Linked DNA regions of Homo sapiens: region 1 is linked to region 2. A link means that fine-mapping ties the variant in region 2 to the expression of a gene that starts in the linked region. Tissue or cell type: whole blood. Region 2 holds a variant in brackets; the other region holds the start of a gene. All regions are shown on one strand. Distances are between the middles of the regions.

What was found. PIP is the estimated chance that this variant, and not a neighbour inherited with it, causes the effect.
Region 1: TNFRSF25 starts here. The variant in region 2 is fine-mapped to the expression of TNFRSF25 in whole blood (INTERVAL, PIP above 0.99).

What each region holds. Positions count from the first base shown.
Region 1 is chr1:6,461,617-6,469,716 of GRCh38, forward strand. TNFRSF25 (TNF receptor superfamily member 25) reads right to left here and starts at 4,557. Exons shown (of 10, transcript NM_003790.3): 1 at 4,453-4,557; 2 at 3,824-3,944; 3 at 3,472-3,606; 4 at 2,936-3,103; 5 at 2,759-2,837; 6 at 1,456-1,511; 7 at 1,247-1,354; 8 at 1,013-1,050; 9 at 378-558; 10 at 1-146. The coding sequence starts at 4,491. PLEKHG5 (pleckstrin homology and RhoGEF domain containing G5) reads right to left here. Exons shown (of 21, transcript NM_020631.6): 17 at 7,928-8,060; 18 at 7,719-7,834; 19 at 7,426-7,625; 20 at 6,209-6,970; 21 at 5,506-5,956. The coding sequence ends at 5,947. RefSeq lists an enhancer at 4,378-5,326.
Region 2 is chr1:6,602,950-6,611,049 of GRCh38, forward strand. LOC107984913 (a long non-coding RNA gene) reads right to left here. Exons shown (of 2, transcript XR_001737882.3): 2 at 498-1,698. Among named protein-coding and RNA genes, the nearest start is that of KLHL21, 4.1 kb to the left of the region's middle. RefSeq lists silencers at 1-325, 1,290-1,638 and enhancers at 416-505, 526-685, 726-875. The variant C/T (reference allele first, on the strand shown) is at 3,264.

The DNA of each region.
Region 1 (8,100 bases), 140 kb before region 2:
GCGCAGCCCCAGCGTGCGCACGAACTCCTTCCAGCGCCGCGCTGGGACCGCGTCCATCACGTCGTAGAGCTGCGGGCCCGGCTGCAGCATCATGGCTGGCGAGCCGGCTGGGGACTCTGGCGAGAGTGTGGGCGCAGCAGCGGGGCCTGGGGCAGGGCCAGAGAGAGCCAATTGGGGTACGTGGGCCGCGGTCGGGAGGCAGAGTCAGGGGCGTTCGTGCGGGTACCCCAGGGCTGAAGCCCGCTGGATCCGGTGGGTCAGGGCATAGGGCGGACTCCGTCAGTTAGGGGGCAGAAAGGGAACACGTTGTGAAACCACAACTTCCCACCGCAGACAGGAGAATGGGGTCAAGGCCTCAGGCCACTGATGTCCCTTACCAAGAGCTCTGCTGGGCAACTGGTCCCAGGACCATGTCACCTGCGGGCAGAGCGCCTCCTGGGTCTCGGGGTAGCCAGGGGTCCAGCTGTTACCCACCAACTGGACGGTGCAGATCTTCTCACTGCTGTCAGGAGGTGCTAGAAGGGTGTGGGCGCTGTCCAAGGGTGACAGATGGGTGGCCTGGAAGCCAAGAGGGGCCCCAGGTCAGCCCTGCTTGCCAAGTAAGGCCCCTTACCCGCAGTGCCTCTCCAGGAGGGGACAGTCCCTGGTTCAGTCAGCAGACACCCCCGCAATGACACCTCCCACAGTTGGCCCTGCTCTCACTGTAGCCCAGCAGAACTCTTGCTTCTGCCTTGAGTCCCCTGCCCCCGCCTCCTTCCTCTTGTCCCCCAGCACCATGGGGCTCTCCTTCCATTGAACTGTTAGCTCCTGTGTACGAATCTGAACTCCAGCTGACTGAGCACCCCTTGAGGGCAGGCACTGTGCTGGTCTCATCCACTGATGACTCTGCTCCCAACACCTCTGTCCACTAGGGCTACCCGGTGCTGGCCGCGTGCCAAGCTCCAGGGATCATAGTAAGGCTTGATCTTCCAGCTCCAGAAGGCAGCCCAGAATCACACAGTGAGGTTCTTACCGGTGGTGGGGTCAGAGCCTCCATCCCAGCTTCATCTGCTGACAGACACAGAGAGATTGCGGTCAGCCACCAGGCAAGCCTCCTGGACCTGGGTGCTGGTACAGCTCCTCTAGGGTTCCTCTGCACCCCACACTCCCTGCCTCAGTTTCCCCTTCTGTATCAGGGTTGAGTAGACTCTGGGCTACCCATCCTGACCCCAGGCTTCTGGGTGCGTGTGTGGGTGTGTGTACTTACCAGTAACCAGGGGCTTGTGAGGCCAGCAGTGGCGGTATGTGTAGGTCAGGGTGGCCCCAAGCAGGAGGGGGACCACAAGGCCAGCCAGGAGCACCTGGACCCAGAACACTGAAAGCAGCTGGTGGGTGTTGGGTGGTTGCCCCCCTCCTCACCCGCCTCCCCTCGGTCCATCCCAGTTCTCCCACTCGCATTCCCAGCACACCACCTACTCTGCCTCCAGCCACAGACAGCGGCACAGCGCTCTGGACAGCTCCCCAGGGTGCTCCTGCAAGGGACGGGGGTGGCCTGAGGGATGAGGGGGTGCATGCCAGGAGGGGCTCCCTAAGACTGCCCAGCATCTGCTCCATCCTAGAGACCCTTCCCTCCCCAGGCCTCTCACTCTACCCAAGAATGTTCCTGTCATTGTGTCCCTGGTAACAACCACAGACACTATTCACTGAGCTTCTTCTAGACTACATGAAGAGTCACTAGAATGTCAACCCCAAAAGGACAGGGATTTTGCCTATTTTGTCCCCTGTTGCATCCCCAGCACCTAGAACAGTGTGTAGAACATAGCAGATATTCAATAAAGACTTGAATGGAGGCCGGGCGCGGTGGCTCATGCCTGTAATCCCAGCACTTTGGGAGGCCAAGGCGGGTGGATCACGAGGTCAGGTGATCAAGACCATCTTGGCTAACACGGTGAAACCCCGTCTCTACTAAAAATACAAAAAATTAGCCGGGGGTGGTGGTGGGCTCCTGTAGTCCCAGCTACTTGGGAGGCTGAGGCAGGAGAATCACTTGAACCCAGGCAGCAGAGGTTGTAGTGAGCCAAGATCGTGCCACTGCACTCCAGCCTGGGTGACAGAGCAAGTCTCCATCTCAAAAAAAAAAAAAAAAAAAAAAAAAAAAGACTTGAATAGCTACAGAAAGTCCCTTACCTCTGATCAAAGGCCTGTGAATTAGCTGCTAACATCCCATGTTGAGAAAGGGACACCACACATCAGAGACGCGAATTCTCTGCACTTGCCCAAGATCCCCTAGAGAACTAGCAGCACAGTCCTGACTCTCAGCCCTTTGTATTTATTTATTTAATAGATTTAATATTTAATATTTAATAGATTTAATATTTATTTATTTATTTAATAGGTCTCGCTCTGTTGCCCAGGCTGAAGTGCAGTGGCACGATCATAGCTCACTGCAGCCTCAACCTCCTTCAGCCCAAGTTTTAAAGCTATATCAATGTGACTCTCTGTGTAAGTGACAAATCATCTGTAATATCTGGCTAGGATCGCTGGGGGGAATGCTGGCTGAAAGTGAAGGCAAATACCCTTATGTATCTGGCTAAGGCGGATCCAGATTGCTCTTTTGCCATCTAAGTTTGCCTGAAGTGGGGCCCACCCATCACAGGGCCAAGGCTCCCTCCTCCCTATCCCCTCTTCCTATTCCTGAACCAGCAGCACCTGCCCCACCCCAGGCCCCTGCTCTGCTCCCAGCCGCCCTTCCCTCCATCCCACGACAGCTAGGAATTACGTGGGGCAGGACACGCAGCCATCGCCATGTTCATAGAAGCCAGGCAGGCAGGTCCCACAGTCAGTATCTCTGCGGGAACCTGCAATCCAGGAGAGGCATGCGTCACCATGGGACAGGAGTGGGTCAGGCAGGGAGAAGGGGGTCTGGGAGTAGAGAGCCCTGGGTGGGGGTACTCACAGAGTAGCCGTGTGTGGCGGTGCAGGGCCCCGCAGTCTAGGCATGGTTGGCAGTAGAAGGGTGAACTGCTGACACATTGGCTGACCTGGCACTCCACAAACCAGCCTGGCTTACAGCCACAGCGGGTGTCGGCCACTGCTGAACAGTTCTCCAGCGCCACCTGGGAGGCTGGTGGGGGTGCAGGGAGATGGGGAGTGGAGAGTTAGTCAGGGCCAAAGGCTCCCATGGAGAGGCAGAGGCATTATCCCAAGATAATGGAGACAGAAATAGGCGAAAGACAGACAGGTACAGGGCTACCCTAAAAAAGAGAGAAGCTCAGAGATTAAGGCCGACCAGAGGCCAAGGCACATGGAGAGATGGGAAGGTCACCAGGAAGAGAGAAGGGGCAAGGGCACCCTGAAGGAGGATCAGGGTGGAGGGTTCTGGCAAGGGTGGGTGCAGGACCCTCACACCCCAAGTTTGGGCCCGAGCCAGCCACTTCCTTCAGAAAGGCCTGTCCTTAGGAACTCCCTGCCAAGCACTGAGAAGCCCCTCACCCTGCTCATCACAGGCCTGGCAGCGGGCACATTCAGAATTATGGTGGTTCTCCCAGGCCAAGAAGGTGTCTTGGGGACACACAAGGCAGGTGGAGTTGCCGCAGGGCTCCGTGCAAGGGGCCTTCAGGTAGTGCCCTGTGGAACCAGGCAGGGGTCAGGCAGGCAGAGGGGCTGCCCAGCAACCCCCGACCTGCTTCCCACCCTGCCCTCCCTCCCTCTTTCTCTCCAGCTCCCTACTTCTCTGTCAGCCTACCCCTACCTCCCCTGCCAGCCTCCTCTTACCTCCCGGGCCTGCCCGCCACCTCTCCAGCCCTGCCTGCCCCATGCCTCTCCCACCCCTGTGGCCACTTACCCGCTGGGCAGCCTCTGCAACAAAACAGACCAATCTTCTTGTGGAAGTCACCGGCACAGTCACACCTGGGGCTACGAGTGCCGCCCTGGGCCCGGGCCCCCAGCAGCACCAGGAGGAGCGCCTGGGGGACAGGTGCTGCTGACTCTCAGCGCAGCTGCCCACGTGGGGCCTCTCCCTGCTGCGTCTCCTCCATTTCAGAGGCCCCAGCATTTGCCCACAGAGCAGCCCACTTCCCAGGCCCCGGGCAGAAGGGGTGCCCATGGGTGGAGAGGAAACTAACTTCCTTCCCCCCGCGCACACACCAGGCTTCGGAGGGGGCGCTTACCAGCCCCTCACAAGTTTCCCCTCCACCAGAGCAGGAATCCAGCAGCGCCCCCACCCCCACCCATGCTTTCTGTTGGGGGAGGGACACTGATAATGCTCTGCCTGGGGCCCCCAGACCCTCCTGGGAGGGGTTTCCTCTCAGTGGAAGGGCTACGCCCTGGAGGAGCCTTTAACGAGATCGGAAAGGGCGGCCAACCCAGCCCCCAGTGAGGCTTGGAGTGGAGACGCGCCCGGGGCCCCTTCCTTCACCGAGGCTCTTGGGACAGGGCTCAAAGCTGCCCCTAGCCTCCTGCGTCTCAACTCACCGCCGCCACCGCCGCGCAGCCCCGCGGCCGCTGCTCCATAGCCCTCCGACGGGCGCCCAGGGGCTTCCCGGCTCCGTGCTCTCTGCCCGTCGTGGTTCCGCCTTCAGCCCCGCGCCCGCAGGGCCCGCCCCGCGCCGTCGAGAAGGGCCCGCCTGGCGGGCGGGGGGAGGCGGGGCCGCCCGAGCCCAACCGAGTCCGACCAGGTGCCCCCTCTGCTCGGCCTAGACCTGAGCTCATTAGGCGGCAGCGGACAGGCCAAGTAGAACACGCGAAGCGCTGGGCTGCCTGCTGCGACCAGGGGCACAGGATAGAGCTGCATCTCGGTCCCCACCCCGACTCTCGCCCCAACCCTGAGAACCACTTCAAGGTAGAGCCAGGGCAAGTGACTTCTCTCTCGGCCTCCGCGTCCCCAGCCATGGAGGAGGTTGGGCCAAAAGTACCGCAAGGGGCCAAGCGCAGTAGCTCAGGCCTGTAATTCTAGCACTATGGGAGGCAGAGGCGGGCGGAACACTTGGGGTCAGGAGTTCGAGACCAGCCTGACCAATATGGTGAAATGCCGTCTCTACTTAAAATACAAAAACTAGCCCGGCGTGGTGGTGCACACCTGCAGTTCCAGCTACTAGAGTGGCTGGGGCAGGAGAATCGTTTGAACCCGGGAGGCAGAGGTTGCAGTGAGCCGACATCACACCACTGCACTCCAACCTAGGTGACAGAGTGAGACTCTGTATTAAAAAAAAAAAAAAAGTTCCTGAAGGGACCCCCATGGAGGACCCACCTTCCCAAGAGGGCTGGCCTGAGTGTGGGAACTGGGCAGATTCAGCCCTGAATCCCCGGGGGGCACCTGGGGAGAGGCTCTGATGGTGGCTGAAGGTGGGGAAGTCTGGGGGTGTTGGTCTGGTGGCACCCCACACCCCATTACTTCCCAGTGCTTCCCATGGCAAGCTCCATCCGTGGCCCATCCGTGGCAAGTGGAGGAGCACAGGAACACAAGGAGGCCGCCCTGAACTCAAGTGCCCCGAGTCACTGGGCCCCAAAGCAAAGGACTCTTCCCAGTGGAGTCTAGACAAGTCTTTATAAAAGAACCAAAAGCTCAATAAATACGTAACTTCACAGAACCCAGCCCAAGCCAGGGGTGGCCTGTGGGACTGGGAAGGTGGGGGCAGGGCAGGAGTGAATCCCACTGGAGGCCAGTGAGGGTAGAAGTAGGATGGGCAGCCTAGGAGCCCAGCCCTGAAGACTCGAGCTGAGCTGGTAACTTCGGGGAGTAGGTGACGAGGGGCTGCCTGGGCAGGTGGGGTGGTACTGTGGCCTGGGCCTCCTCCACTCCATCCAGTCCGGCAAAGCGCAAATCGGGCCCGGGCGTAGGCAGGGATCCTGCCCAGCATCCGGCTCATGCATACAGGAGGCAGTAGCTGAAGCAGGTGCCGGCACGCCCCAGGAGGCAGGCTGTCTGCTGTCTCTTGGTCAATGGCACTCTTGGGGGCCTCCCTCTGCTCAGACCTCCCTACAGGGTGGGGAGGGGACAGAGTCCTTCTTTGGCTGACGCCATTCAGAGTGGCTCTGGTCACCCTCTCTTCCCCACGGCACTCCTCAGGCCCCTTCACTGCTGCCCACCACAGCCCCCTGCGCCCAGACACTGGGCAGGGTTCAGGCTCCCTCCGCCATGACCCTCCCCAAATGCGATGCTCCCAGGCATGAGTGGGCCCCCATGCCAGTGCCCTGAGCCACCTGCCCTACCCCAGTCCAGGCCACTCACGAGGCAGTGAGCGTGGAGTTAAGCAGCAGGGTGGTCCTGATTCGGTAGAGCTGGGCCAGGGTCAGCTTCCTGTGCTGGGCAGAGACCCCTGGTGGGGGCTCAGGCTGGACCCTGGGAGAGGCCCCCGAGGGCAGGTCTCCACACCTCTTCCTGTGGGAGCCTGCAGGTTCCCCGGCCAGGCAGCCGACTAGCCCAGGACCGCTGCCAGGGCTAGGGGCCCCTCGGCAATCCCAGCTGGGCCCAGCTTCCTGAGGGGAGCCCTGAGTCCTAATACCTGGGGCTGGAACAGCCAGGCAGAGCTCTGACAGGCTGCGGCTGGGGGCAGAGGGTGTCCCATGGGTGCCAGCCCCTGCCAGCAGCTGGAGGAGGCTGGCCTCGGACTTAGACTTGAGCAGGTGGGGCGGGCAGCTCAACAGCTGGACAGGGGTGCGGCGGCGGAGACGGGGCGAGGGTGGAGGGGAAGGAACTCGTGGGGACTCTGGGGCCCGAGGCACTAGCTCTGCCATTGGGCCTGGGGCCACAAAGTCTTGTAAGGAGGTTGGGGAGAGGGTGCCGTAGGCAGAGTCCATGGAGCAGGAGCGGCCGTCCACCGGACCCAGGGGCAGCAGCTCACTGGTGGGCGTGGCAGATGAGGCAGTGGTGCTGAGAGAGGTCTCATCAGACTGGGAGCTGAAAGGACCGCTGTCGAACTCGGGGGAGGACAGCGTGTCCCCAGGCTCTACCACAACCATGGCCAGGGTCTCCGTGGAGCCATCTGAGGCACTGTGGGGCCAGGAGCAGAGTCAGCCCAGGCCATGAAACCTAGATGGCCTGAGGCAGCCCCAGGCTGGGCAATGCACGGTGGTTTATACCCTCTGCCCTCCTGGGGCTGGAGGCTCAGAGATGGCAGCATGTGGCAGGTGTGGCAGATCTTCCAGCTCCAGTGCCCACAACAGACCTCAGTAGCGAGCCCAGCACTCTTCCCTGCCAAGGCTGGATCTGCCCTAAGGATCCTCAGCACAGCACCCCAGGCAGCTACCACGAATGGATCAGGGCTGGCAGCACATGGAAAGGTGTCTGCCCTCCCCACCCGGACTCTGGGGGAGACAGAGCCCCGCTCCCACAGTGTTCATGACAAGAGGCCATTGGGAGGAAGGGAGCGTGGCTGGGCCTTCAGGAGTCCTGGGCTAGAGTACTTGTCCTGGTTTGACCTGCTGGGTGGTCATGAGCAGACGTACCAGTGCTGAGAGTCGGGGCTGCCGCTGCTTTTCCGCATGATGGTAGGGGAGCTGGCAGCTGAAGTGCCACTGTCCTCGCCTTCCTCCTCCTCCTCCTCCTCCTCCTCTTCCTCCTCCTGCTCATCCTCCTCCTCTTCCAGGCTCTGCAGGGGCTGCTGACTGCCTGGGGGCTCCTGTGCACGCAGCTGTTGCAGCTGGTTCTGCAGGCAAGGTTGGGGTACATGGGACAGAATGGGTTGTGACCAGCATCTCCCTAATCTGCCTTGCCCACCCACTCACTACTCTGCACTCACCTGGGCATTGTAAATGGTGTCCACCCAGCCACGGCACAAGGCCTGGCCACTGGCCTGGAACGTGTAGGCCCCTACAGCACTGTGAAACTCATTCAGGTAGATAAGGAGGAAGGACCCTGGTTAGGGAAGGCCCAAGTCAGTGTCAGCAGAGACGATGGCCCCCACCCATCACAGCCCCTGACCAGGAACAGGGGACCAGGGCTCCTTACCAGGGTCCCGTAGCTCCCGGCACACAATCTTGTCCACGAGCAGGGGTGGCCTGATGACCCTGGTCCTCTCTGCCTTCTTCACTGCTTTGGTCACCAACAGCAGATCCGTGAAGAGGAAGCAGTACACATCCATCTGCAGTGGCAGGAGGGGGGGTGGCCAGAGAGGCCAGCAG
Region 2 (8,100 bases):
CACCGCCCCCTTAACCCCTCTGTGCCGGGCGCCACCGCCCCCCGCGAGCGCGGGCTCGCCTGTCCCCCGCGCGGCGCCCGCCCCCGGCTCCGCAGGCTGAGTCACCGCTGTCCGCGGCCGGCTCCCTCCCTCCGCCCTTCTGCGTCTCCCCGCTGACGCCCGGGCCGGGGACAGCGAGTGACAAGTGCCAGGTCCGAGGGCGGCCTCGCCGCGCGCCGGGACCGGGGGCCTCCCGGGGTTGCCCACGACCCACCCGGCCCGGCTGCTGAACCCAACCCGGGAGAGGCGAGCTCGGCCCTGAAACCAAAGCCACCCCTCCTTTCACGCCAGACTTCCCAAGGGCGCCGGCCCAGGTCCCGGGGCGGCTGGGTACAATGGCTTTTTGTTTTGCTTTTGAGTTCCACTAGTTTCAAGGGTTGCTAGTTAACCCCATCACGGGACACACTCAAAGGATAGGCTTTTTACCATTCTGGACCAAAGCAAGAACGCGTATAAAGTTTTTCGGTGACGTTTTTTTCTTGGCGCATTTATAAGCGACCCGGGGCCGGATTCCAGGAGTCGGCCCCACTCCTGTGTTCCTGAAGGAGCTTCTGACTCAATCACACAGGCGTTAACTTTAGTCGGCTTCACGCGCAGTTGTAGTTTCCGAGTCTGCGTCGCAGCTGCAGGCTCCGGGGCTGCCCGCCCTAGGGGCTCCCGGGCCTCCCTGAAGCAGCTGCTCGGACTCCACGAGAGGGTAACTGGGTATAAAGAGCGAGGGCTCAAAGTCAGATAGGAGACCGCCTTGAAACTAGATGACGCCACTAAGCACAGTCCCGCCGTCACTTGTACTGCGGTGGGGAATGGTGAAAGAAGGAATCGCCCTTATTTTAGTTCCGATAGACACAGCACCACTTTGAATGTCACTTGTAGGGGAAAAAGAGCCCTCCCTTGGAGGCCATTTTTTCCTCAGTGGAAGGTAGGCTTTGCTCAGTTTTAGAAAAGACCCCTATTTCACCACCAGGACTGCTGCTTTGCAGAGAACACTTGGGTTTGTGCTGTTTTCCAGCCCCCCTACACCGGTGGGCCTTTGAGAACGCATTCCTGAGGAAGGCGCCCGCCCACGTGGGTCCCAGAGCAGGCCACGCGCATGGGAGCTGGCTATCATTTCCTGGTTCCAGCGAGGTCTAGGGCCGCGTAGCGTTTCCAGAAGACATTTTGTTTTTATTCCACCTCTGAAATGAGAACCGCAGGCTTTCTCTTCTACTTAAGAGTTTCACGTCATTTTGCCATAAGAATGCATCTGGTCTGAATTTCAGGGTGAGCATGGGCAGCACAGGCCCAAATCAGAAAACATTCAGGTACCCAGGCGGGCCGCCTGTTGCCCATAGAAGGACTGTTCACACAGCTATTCAAGGCAGCGGCAGCATTCCTGGGCCCAGGAGCAGGGCCAATAGCTTCCTTGCACAGGCTTTGTGACAAGAAAGGCTGAGTAGCCAGGAAGTGGAATGTTTGTAGGGAAAAGAACTCCCGTCCCCTGGGTCAGCTTACCCATCTTGCGTAAGTCCAGTGATTAAATCAATAATGTTTCCATAGTTGAGGATTGAGTACGGTTTTTCTGTATTCCCAATAACAGGGATTTTTAAACATCATATTTCAGTCTTACTATGTAGCCTTGAAGAATAATGATGTATTTATTGAAATGGAAAGATGTTTGAGCTATAAAGCGAAAAATCAGATTACTCATTGTATGACCCAAATTGATTTATATGTATTCATATGCCTAAAAAAATTTATTAAGTTAACATTTTCGGCCAGGCGCCGTGGCTCACGCCTGTAATCCCAGCACTTTGGGAGGCCGAGGTGGGTGGATCACCTGAGGTAGCGAGTTCGAGACCAGCCTGGCCAATATGGCGAAACCCTGTCTCTACTAAAAATAAAACAATTATAATTAGCTGGGTGCTGTGGCGCACGCCTGTAATCCCAGCTACGCGGAGGCTGAGGCTGGGGCAAGATTTCTTGAGGCCAGGAGTTTGAGACCAGCCTGGGCAACATAGTGGGACCCAATATTTTGTCTCAACAAAAAGTTTTCAAATTGGCCAGGCGTGGTGGCATGCACCTTTAGTCTCAGCTACTTGGGAGGCTGAAGTGGGAAGATCACATAAGCCCAGATGACAGTGAGCTGTCATTGTTCCACTGCTCCCACTCTGCCTGCCCCACCCCTGAAAAAAAGAAAGAGCTAAATAGCATGCCTGGGTTAGTAGGTTATTCAAAATTCCTAACACAGCTGATAGGTCTAAATCGGTTCCTTTCTTTTCTCACCACATTCCTTTGTTGAATTATCTATATATATACATGGTTTCACATGCCTGGTAGGCCCCGGTTATCAATGAAATACTTCTTTTCTCAAGATATGAATTCTTAATTTTACTTTGAACTTAAATTAACATTAACAGATAATGTACGTGTAGTACAGAAAGAGAATGCAGGCAAGCAAAAACAAAATGAACATAACCACCTAGATGACATGTTGTTTGTTTTTTGAGACGGAGTCTCACTCTGTAGTGCACTGGCACGATCTGAGCTCACTGCAACCTCTGCCTCCAGGTTCAAACACTTCAAGCTTGAACCCGGGAGGAGGAGGTTACAATGAGCTGAGATCACGCTACTGCACTCCAGCCTGGGCGACAGAGTGAGACTTCATCTCAAAAAAAAAAAAATTAAAATTACAAAAATGGCCATTGCCTAAGCAATTTAAGATAATGTGATTTACCTGAACATTCTGAGGCTACAAATTAAAAAGTGATTTAATGTGTGATGTGATTTAACAAATAGTTATTATTTTAAAAAACAACTTAATTTTGGTATTTAAATTCTAATTTAAGGCAGACAGAGCAAGAGGTGACTAAAATTACGTTACCTTTTTTTTCTTGAGACAGAGTCTCGCTGTGTCACCCAGGCTGCAGTGCAGTGGCGCGATCTCGGCTCACCGCAACCTCTGCCTCCCGGGTTAAAGCAATTCTCCTGCCTCAGCCTTCCTGAGTGGCTGGGATTACAGGCATGCACCACCACTCTTGGCTAATTTTGTATTTTTAGTAAAGATGGGGTTTCTCCATGTTGGTCAGGCTGGTCTCAAACTCCTGACCTCAGATGATCCACCCGCCTCGGCCTCCCAAAGTGCTGGGATTACAGGCATGAGCCACCTGGTCTGGCCATGTTACCTTTTTTATTGAGACAGGATCTCCCTCTGTTGCCCAGGCTGGAGTGCAGTGGCACAATCTCAG[C/T]TAACTGCAACCTCTGCCTCCCAGGCTCAGGTGATCCTCCTACCTCAGCCTCCCCAGGAGCTGGGACTACAGGCGTGAGCCAACACGCTTGGTTAATTTTTTAAATTTTTTGTAGAGACGGGGTTTCGCTGTGTTACCCAGGTTGGTCTTAAACTCCTGGACTCAAGCAATCCTCCAGTCTTGGTGCTGAGCCAAAGTGCTGAGATTACAGGCATCAGCCACCATGCCAGACCCTAAGGTCATTTTAAAAGTGGCTGTTTACAGCCTGGCCAACGTGGTGAAACTCCATCTCTACTAAAAATACAAAAATTAGCCAAGCGCGGTGGTGCACATCTATAATCCCAGCTACTCCAGAGGCTGAGGCAGGAGAATCGCTTTAACCCAGGAGGCGGAGGTCACAATGAGCTGAGATCATGGGACTCAAGCATGGAGGACAGAGCAAGACTCCGTCTCAAAAAAAAAAAAAAAAGAGCAGCTGTTATTCTTTTTTTTTCTTTAAGAATATTTAGGAACACACTCCTTAGCCTTGATTACGTCCACAGCTATTGTGCCTTTTCTTGTATCATATCATACACTCTGATTTTTTCAGATTCCAGGTTTTCTAAGGTATAATGCACTTACCATATATAACTCCTTTTTTTTTTTCTTTTGAGACGAAGTCTCCCTGTGTCGCCTAGGTTGGAGTACAGTGGCGCAACCTCAGCTCACTGCAACCTCCGCCTCCTGAGTTCCAGTGATTCTCCTGCCTCAGCCTCTCGAGTAGCTAGGATCACAGGCACGCACCACAACACCTGGCTAATTTTTCTATTTTTTGTAGAGATGGCATTTCACCATGTTGGCCAGGCTGGTCTTGAACTCCTGACCTCAGGTGATCTGCCTACCTCAGCTTCCGCTGGGATTACAGGCATGAGCCATTGTGCCCAATCTAAACATTTTTTCTTTAAGGAATGTTGCGCTATTCTCTATTTATTAAATGCATTTACATATGTAAATGAGATAGGGTAAGTAAAAACATTTAAACAGTGTTTGACATATAGTATTAGTTATTATCTTTTTTTTTTGAAACAGAGTCTTGCTCTATTCCCCAGACTGGAGTGCAGTAGCATGATCTCGGCTCACTGCAACCTCCACCTCCCGTGTTCAAGCCATTCTCCTGCCTCAGGAGAGTAGGTGGGATTACAGGCACCTGTCACCATGCCTGGCTAATTTTTGTATTTTTTTGGTAGAGATGTGGTTTTGCCATGTTGGCCACGCTAGTCTCCAACTCCTGACCTCAAATGATCCATCTCCCTTGGCCTCCCAGTGTTCTGTGATTACAGGCGTGAGCCACAGCACCCCAGCCTTTAGCTATTAACTTTCTTTTTTCTTTTTTGGAGACAGAGTCTTGCTCTGTTGCCCAGGCTGGAGTGCAGTGGCGCAATTTCGGCTCACCACAACCTCTGCCTCCCAGGTTCAAGCGATTCTTCTACCTCAGCCTCCCAAGTAGCTGGGACTACAGGTGTGCGCCACCATGCCCAGCTAATTTTTATATTTAGTAGAGACGATGTGTCACTGTGTTGGCAAGGCTGGTCTCTAACTCCTGACCTCGTGATCCACCTGCCTCGACCTCCCAAAGTGCTGGGGTTACAGGTGTAAGCCACCATGTCCAGCTTAGCTATTACCTTTGTATTCTACCAGTATGAACTCAAGAAACTCATTTGATTCTTCTATCTGTAGGTCAGATTCACTGTGTGAAACACTGACAATATATGGTCTATAAATTATTAATGATTTCAAATGATTCACACACATATTCATACAGTTTTCAAGTTACTAAAAGCTGAAAAGAAGATTTTGTGGAATTTTCACTTTTTTCCCATCTCCTGGAAACGGAAGTGAGCAAGGCAGAAAACAGAGGGTAAAAAGAATTCCTAAGAATATACTGGGCTGGGCGTGGTGGCTCATGCCCATAATCCCAGCACTCTGGGAGGCCGAGGTGGGGAGATCGTTTGAGACCAGGAGTTCAAGATCAGCCTGGGCCATGTGGTGAAATCCCTTCTCTACAAAAAATACAAAAACAACCAGCACTTTGGGAGGCCGAGGAGGGCAGATCACGAGGTCAGGAGATCAAGACCATCCTGGCTAACGCAGTGAAACCCCATCTTTCTAAAAAAATAAAAAATTAGCCGGGCGTGGTGGCGGGCGCCTGTGGTCCCAGCTAGTCGGGAGGCTGAGGCAGGACAATGGCATGAACCCAGAAGGCGGAGCTTGCAGTGAGCCGAGATCGTGCCACTGCACTCCAGCCTGGGCGACACAGCAAGACTCCGCCTCAAAAAAACAAAAAACAAAAACAAAAAACAAAATAAGCTGGATATGCTGGTGCATGCCTGTAGTCCCAGCTACTAGGAAGGCTGAGGCAGGGGGATCACCTGAGCCCAGGAGGCCTAGGGTGCAGTGACTATAGTGAGCCGTGTTCGAACCACTGCACTCCGGGCTAAAAAAAAAAAAAAAAAAAAAGGCTGGGCGCAGTGGCTCAGGCCTGTAATCCCAGCACTTTGGGAGGCCGAGGCAGTCAGATCACCTGAGGTCAGGAGTTTGAGACTAGCCTGGCCAACATGGTGAAACTCTGTCTCTACTAAAAATATAAAAAATTAGGCTGGGTGCCGTGGCTCACACCTGTAATCCCAGCACTTTGGGAGGCCAAAATGGGCAGATCACAAGGTCAGAAGATGGAGACCATCTTGGCCAACATGGTGAAACCCTGTCTCTACTAAAATACAAAAAATTAGTTGGGCGTGGTGGCGTGCGCCTCTAGTCCCAGCTACTCGGGAGGCTGAGACAGCGGAATTGATTGAACGGGGGTGGCAGAGGTTGCAGTGAGCCGAGATCACCCTACTGCACTCCAGCCTGGCGACAGAGCAAGACTCCGTCTCAAAAAAAAAAAAAAAATTAAAAAATAAATAAATAAATAAATAAAAAATAAATAAATAAAAATTTACCGGGCGCGGTGGCACGCGCCTGTAATCCCAGCTACTTGGGAGGCTGAGGCAGGAGAATCTCTAGAACCCGGGAAGCAGAGGTTTCAGTGAGCCCAGATCGCGCCACTGCACTCAAGCCTGGGTGACAGAGCAAGACTCCGTCTCAGAAAAACAAAAACAAAAACTATTAAGCTGAACAAAAAGCTGAAACATTTGAAAAGCAAACCTTTGGTTATGCTCACACCTGCACTAAAGCACAGAGCTAAAATGGGAGACAGAAAGCTTTCTTGTATGTTCCCTCAAGTGGATGCAGTGTAGCTGCTGAGATTTAGGAAGGTGAAGCTATATTTGGTAACTCAATTAAAATAACCACATTCTCAAGTTACTTACCGGGAAACCATGGTATTCTTAGTATTTTTAACTTGTTGCAACCTGTGCTAACGTTGGCTTTTTTCCTCCTCTCCTAAGTAACTATAATCATCTGAGAATTAGTATTCAGCAGTTGGTATAATTAGTTTGTTTTTTGTTTTTAGCAGAAAACAAAGAATCATAGACTCCAAGGATCTGGCTACTGTGGTGAATGTTCTTGAACTAATCAAGGAATTTCAGATTCGCCCCCTGCAGCCCAGGAGTAGTACAATACACCTATGAAAAAAACGGGAGATACTGAACAAACCTAATCCTGTCACAGAAAATCAACTGTGTTTTTTGAGACGGAGTCTGACTCTGTCGCCAGGCTGCAGTGCAGTGGCATGATCTCCGCTCACTGCAACCTCTGCCTTCCGGGTTCACGCCATTCTCCTGCCTCAGCCTCCGGAGTAGCTGGGACTACAGATGCGTGCCACCACACCCAGATAATTTTTGTATTTTTAGTACAGACAGGGTTTCAACATGTTGGACAGGATGGTCTTGATCTCTTGACCTCGTGATTCGCCCGCCTCGGCCTCCCAAAGTGCTGGGATTACAGGCGTGAGAAAATCAACTTTATTACTCCACAGCTACATATTATGAGATCGTTTGGGTCAACTACAAGTGGTATAGTCCTTTTTCTGAATTTAGGGAAAGGATGCTAAACATTAATGTCTAAATTTCCTCCAAAGGGCTGTATTTCTAAGGGAAATGGAAAGACAAAAGAGGTCCTTTTTCTTGAAGTTTTCTCTTTCACTGGAGTAGCAGGAAGGTACAGGTCATATCTATGTACTAAAAATTACTGTTTACTAAAAACATATTCAATAAATATCTGGGTGCGGTGGCTTATGCCTGTAATCCCAGCACTTTGGGAGGCTGAGACAGGCAGATCACATGAGGCCAAGAGTTCAAGACCAGCCTGTCCAACATGGTGAAACCCCGTCTCTACTAAAAATACAAAAAATTAGCCGGGTGTTGTGGCGCATGCCTGTAATCCCAGCTCTCAGGAGGCTGAGGCAGGAGAATCGCTTGAACCCGGGAGATAGAGGTTGTGGTGAACCAGGATCACACCACTGTACTCCAGCAGGGGCAACAAGAGTGAAACTGTCTCAAAAAAGAAAGAAGAATAAACTCTCAAATTGGAAATGAAGGACCTACTCAGAATAATGGACTTGTTGACAAAACTGAGCTTAGAATTCACAGGCCTATATTGGACTACTTGGTTACATCAAGGAAGGAAAATCCCAAACATGGATTGAGTCAGGGGACAGATTTTCAGACTCAAGTGATAACTTTTGCTCAGAGTGGGTATTCACTCCAGGCAGGCAAGATAGCTCAGGACTGTAAACTCTACAATTTGGGAGGCCTGGGTGGGAGGATCCCTTGAGCCCAGGAGTTCCAGAACAGCCTTGGCAACATACGGAGACCCTGTCTTAAAAAAAAAAAAATTAGGCCTGGCATGGTGGCTCACG